2 separate regions of the Homo sapiens genome follow, and region 1 is linked to region 2. The links come from fine-mapping of genetic effects on gene expression. A gene starts in region 2. The other region holds a variant in brackets. All regions are shown on one strand. Distances are between the middles of the regions. Region 1 has its middle 47 kb from the start of BCKDHB. Region 2 holds the start of TTK (TTK protein kinase).

The links. PIP is the estimated chance that this variant, and not a neighbour inherited with it, causes the effect. A credible set is the group of variants that fine-mapping cannot tell apart.
Region 1: its variant is the best candidate, but not a certain one, in a credible set for the expression of TTK in whole blood (INTERVAL, PIP 0.80).

The regions. Positions count from the first base shown.
Region 1 is chr6:80,057,727-80,060,650 of GRCh38, forward strand. No RefSeq gene overlaps it. Among named protein-coding and RNA genes, the nearest start is that of BCKDHB, 47 kb to the right of the region's middle. The variant C/CTTTA (reference allele first, on the strand shown) is at 1,327.
Region 2 is chr6:80,003,514-80,006,437 of GRCh38, forward strand. TTK (TTK protein kinase) reads left to right here and starts at 1,136. Exons shown (of 22, transcript NM_003318.5): 1 at 1,136-1,200; 2 at 2,329-2,469. The coding sequence starts at 2,331. RefSeq lists enhancers at 173-1,047, 618-737.

The sequences.
Region 1 (2,924 bases), 54 kb after region 2:
TATTGATACAATCCTGTCCTCACTAGTCCTTTAGGTGAAGCTCTTGCCGCAATCATCTTTCCAGAGCATTGCACGTACTGCTTCCCATTTTTGTGTGCACTGCAGCAGACACTAACTGCCTTCCCAGTAGCCTTTCCCCATCTGTCCAGGGGCAGAGATCTGCTTCTGCAGGAGTATCCATCACTTCCCTGTGGGATTCAGACAAGGCTGGCTCTATTCCCAGTTCAAGCGGTCAGTCCTGATTGGCTTAAATGCATCGTGGTGGCCTCATTGTCCTGCCAGTGATTGGTTTAGGCACGGGCATATTTCTTAATTCTAGCCAATGAAAGATGAAGAATAGTATGCCAGGGGACTATAGGAAATAGATTTTTATTCTTAAAAATAAATTCATGGGAAGTAGTCCCTACTCGATGTAGTTATGCCTGCATTTGATATCATGAACTGCGGTAGCTTTCCTGCAACTATGAGGAGAACTAAGAGTAGGAGGGCAAAGCAAAAGGATGAAAATATATATATATATATATATATATGGATCCCTGGTGATGTAAAGCATGAAGTGATCCAATCCTGAAGCCATCTTACCTTGAGAGTTCTTGTTAGATAGGATAATAAATTTTCCTTATTATTTATGCCAAGTTGAATTGTATGTTATCTGTTATTTGTAGTTACAAGTACCCTAAATACATACAAAGCCTTGTTCTGCACTGACGAAGGCATTTCTTCTCTAGGTCTCTAGAACTGCAAGTTCTACCATGTTTGTGAAGCAACCCAGAAAAGTCCCAGTTCAGAATAATTTTCCTCTCCGCTGAACTCCTTTATTGACTCAGTTTGGCGTTTCCTTCCCTCCCTCTCTTTCTCTCTCTCCACTGTCACCACCTCTCTTTTTCATCCTGTAAATGTTAAGACCCTAGATTAGATCTTTTTGGTATTTGCAATTTACAAGCATACCACCCAAAAAGCAGAAACACTTGAACATATCTTCTATAGTACTAAAGTTGGAAGGAGAACAATTTTGGTCTTTCTAGTCTGCACATCGGTTTGTACTTATTTGTGTGATTGGCAATATATTTTAATGTAAAGAGTGTAGATTTTGGAGTTTATAAACCAGAGTTTGACTCCAGGCTTCTCATTTACTAACTGTAGGTTTCATGTAAATTGCTTAACCTTTATAGATGATTTCTCATATATAAAATATGGTTAATAATACATTGCAGCATTAAATAAGGATTAAATGGGGCAACACAAGTAAAATGCCTAGGATATAATGGACACTCAGTAACATCATATGTAATAACTATCCATGTGTATCTATATACACAAATTTTT[C/CTTTA]TTTATTTATGATTGCTGAAGAAGAAAATATATGCAAAGAGGACAGTGAGCAGTGGGCAGTGGAAGAAGTAGAGGGTCTGATCAGATCTGGAAGACATTTAGACACCATTTCCTTAATATTCTCATTGTACGGATGAGGAAACAGAGTCTCAGAAGTTTTCTAAGATTTGTCCAAAGTCCTACTTCTCCTTGCTGTATTTTTATGTATACAGATTAGCTTCTTTTCCCAGAACATGTGATTCTGATGATTAAGATATATCTACTTCGAAGCTTTGTTTCTTCTACCAACATTAGAACTTGGGTCAGTTGGCAAAGAGAGAAGTGTCAATAGAAACACTTTCAAGACCAGGCCAAGTAGAATTAGGTTAAGAGAGTACTTGTCAGGGAGATTTGAAAAAAATCACATCATTCTTCCCAAGAGATACAACGTGAAACTTGGGAATGTGAACTATTAACCAATGCAAAGAATAAGGAGTGATGGGGATAATCTCCATTCTAATTTTGATATATTATCATAGATGTTATAATCTCAGAAATTCATTTAGTGTTGTGTTCTTCATCCATACATGGCTTTGTTATCTAAGTGATATTTTCTCCGTTATTTGAAAAGTCACAATAAATGAAAGAAGAAGAGTAGAAACAAGGAAAAGAAGAATGTTCAAAGCTTTGTTCACCATTAAATTTAAGTCAAACACCCCACAGGACCTTGACTTGCTCCAACTCATGACACTATTGAAATTTACTCAAAAGAATACTCAGTCTTTTTTTGTGTATGTGATCCAGGATTAGCAGGATTTGTAGATAAAACAGTGATTCGACTTTGTGTTCATTTGCCTGTGTATTCAGTACAGCAAGTGTGCCTGTGTTAGGAGACAGAATATATTCCTAAACTCAGAAGGCATGACATAAACATTATGTCCTGAGACCAATCACTGCTAAGGTAGAGAAGGGAAAGAAGCCCAAGTAGGTCTTGGGTCCCCAGAAGAGAAGTACAGGAGTCTTGGCAGCTGACATACCTAGTCACGGGGTGGCTGTTGCGAGAGTAAATCACAGTACATGATTATGTAGGTGAGCCAAATACATGAGGGCAGGAGACAATATTCATGCTTAAGTTACAAAATCACCTCCAGGAGTCAGCCAGGAATCTTGCCAATCTTCATCTTCCTTCCTTCCCACTATGCACATCCCAGAAAGACTAAAAATCAAGGGAACTGGGCATTCCTGTAATTCAGCCTCTTGTCTCCATACTCTTTCCTGTCTTGTACTCTCCAGACTCACGTATATACTGAACGTTCTTCTATTATCTTCCTTATTTGAAATACATATTTTTTCTTTTTAAACTCAACCATTTAAATTCTTTTACTTAAATTTTTTCTTTGCTTCCTTCTTCCTGTCTTACGTTAGATTATAGAGGTCATATTTCAACTATTTTATTACAGTGAAATATTTTTGTTTAAATTGTTTTTCAATAATGGTAAGTAGAATTGTTAAGGTTGTCTTATGTGAGACTAAACAAATATTCACAGAGAAATGATCATCCAGTTTCATGAAGGGACACATTCAAGAATATTTATGACAACACATTTATAGGCTAGGAC
Region 2 (2,924 bases):
CAGATCAACGAGAATTGGAGGAATAATAAACTCTTTCCAGGCAGAAGCATTAGATGCAATGGTGCAAAGGTAAGTGATTAGCCAACCATGGTATAGCAAGTCATTTTGCTCTGCTGAAGCAGAAATACTAGCTAGCTGACACAGAAAGATGCATTAAGTGATTGAGAAGGGCTCTCACGCTAGCTGGGTGGCTATCCAGAGCTGGGAATGTGAGGGTTCTAAGGATAGCTTTGGAGTTAACAAGTGACAGCTGCAGTTAGTTTCCTATACATACACAAAACCAACCCGTCCTACCACAGAATATATGTCATAATGCTGGCACAACAGACACATCCCTTTTAGTTTTGCAGACGAGGAGTAACCGTTGCCCTGGACCACAAAGCCACTTAGCGGCAGAGCCTCGCACCCGCGAAGATTATTACTAGGGAGATGTTTTTACCCCTGAGGACACCTGAGCCCTTAAGTGGGGCAGGCTTCGAGGGAGGGGGGCCGATAAGGCGACTTCAGACAGGGCAATCACGATGGGCGCTTGAGTTCTGCGCAGAATTTTGACAAGGGGGAGGGTCTTGGCTTGAAGACAGAGCGTGGAGTCATTTAAGGATAATGGAAGGGCATAAGCAGAAGCTCAAGGATAAAAAGCACTGAAATTCTTGAGCTGGCGGCAGGGCTGAACGTAGCTCAGTGAAAGATCCTTTCTTGCCACATCCTCTCTAAGCCAGGCTGTGAGAACCGCGGGAAACGAAGGAGAAGGGTGGCGGTGGGGTCAGTAAAGGGCCGGCCCAAGGTGCATCTTTTAGGTCCTGATGCTAGGAGCAGCCGTCCCTGCCCCTATATTCCTCTCACTGGGTAGGTTTGCTCGGGAGTGGCTACCTCCCAGGCAAAAATTCGGCCTGGTTAAACTGGAAAGACCAGGAAAGCCCGCCCACGGGCGTCCGGGGAACGCCTGCAAAGTGCCAGCACCCTACCAACCCAGGCGCCGCACGGGTGGGGTCGCGGCCGCAGGCTCTTCCGGGGCGGGCCTAGCCTGACGCAGGAGGAGGGGCGGCCCCCGTCGCACAAGAACCAATCACGACTGTCGCTTCTACGTGGCTAGCATTGACCAATAGGAGACCGTAGTGATAGCGACGGGGAAATTCAAACGTGTTTGCGGAAAGGAGTTTGGGTTCCATCTTTTCATTTCCCCAGCGCAGCTTTCTGTAGGTAAGTTCTGTCTTACCGGTGCACCGGCGCACTGAGGAACAGCCGCAGCCGGTGTAGGGGCTCATTGTTAGCGCTGGTCGGTGAGGGGTGGGGCGAGGTGGGGGCAGCTCGGAGCCAGGTATGCGACGCGGCTAAACGAGCTGGAGGGGGAGGGGATGTCTCACTGCCTCAGCGGGTCTGGCCGGTGGGGTGATGCAGGAGGTTTTGTTGAGGAAGTAAGAAGTGGGTGTGGCCCACGCTGGAAAGAAGGGGTGGTGGGGTACCTGCGCACAAGATCGTTTTCCAAAGGACAGTCTCTCTTGTTTTGGGGGTTAGAACTGGGAAAGAAGCGGGTGGCCGTGATCTGACAGTTATCTTTCAAACCTGACTTAAGAGGTGGAGTGATACCTTGCTGCAACTTTATGACTTTTTTTCATTGTTAAACCTGAAGACGGGGCAGCATTGTTATCAGTGACACTGAGTTGGTGTTTGAGAGTCACAAAGATACGATTAACAATAAGACTGCAGACACTTTATTGAACAAACACCACCACCATGCAGATAAGCAAGTGCTCAGTACCAGTACAATAGTTTCTTAGTGTTAGATTAAGGTAGCAAATCGTGATTCTGCTAGATATGCACAAGAATAAATCTGCGGATTTCCTAATTATCAGTAAAGCCCCATCATGTTTATATTCTGCTTTGAAAGCACTTGCACTGGAAGATTTACTCAAGTAAAGCAGGCGAATAAAGGAATTGTTATTCCCATTGCCAAACGAATTCTTTATGTCTATGTCACTACCAGAATCCAAGCAATCTTTATGTGTATGTCGCTACCAAAATCCAAGCAAACACTCTATCATATTTTTTTTAAGTGACACTAAATTTGCAGATTTCTACAGTGTGACGTCATTGATGTTATATTGGGGGAAAAAGTATACTTGGCCTATGAAACCTTGGTGAATAAATTACAAAGATGTGTACCTTGTTGTTGTGCACTTACCTCCATTAATACTAGCCTAATAATAGCTGCATTTAGATGTGTTCACAAAACGAATGCTTTAGTCGTCTGGGTTCTAAAAAGCTAGTGCATTTTTTTCTTTGATGCTAGTTAAAGTAGGAGTTATGACTGTTCAGTTTTTTTCTTAGAAATGGAATCCGAGGATTTAAGTGGCAGAGAATTGACAATTGATTCCATAATGAACAAAGTGAGAGACATTAAAAATAAGTTTAAAAATGAAGACCTTACTGATGAACTAAGCTTGAATAAAATTTCTGCTGATACTACAGGTGAGTTTTTCTTTTCTTTTAAGTTAGTAACTGTTTGTTGGGTATCCTCTAAGGTAAAGATATAGTACTAATCACTTTATTTATAATTTACTCATGTGTTTATTGTCTTTCTCCTCCATTAGAATGCAGGCTACATGATGGCAGGGTTTTTGTCTGTTATATCCACAGAACTTTGAATGGTGTCTGGCACATGGTAGGTAGGCACTTAAACATTTATTGAACAATGATTAATGGGTGAAAATGCCCAGAGTTTAATACTCTAGCTCTTCTAAAAGTATTAGCTCAGAAGCCTGATTCTTTACTGTATTTCAAATGGTTGGTCATTTGAATGGTGACCTTTGGATAATTTTCTTACATCTATACTAACCTTTAAATAGATGAGGAATTGAAAATAAATGGAAGAACCTGTGATCTAATCATGGTGGCTGACTGTTCACTTTGAAAAAACCTAGAAA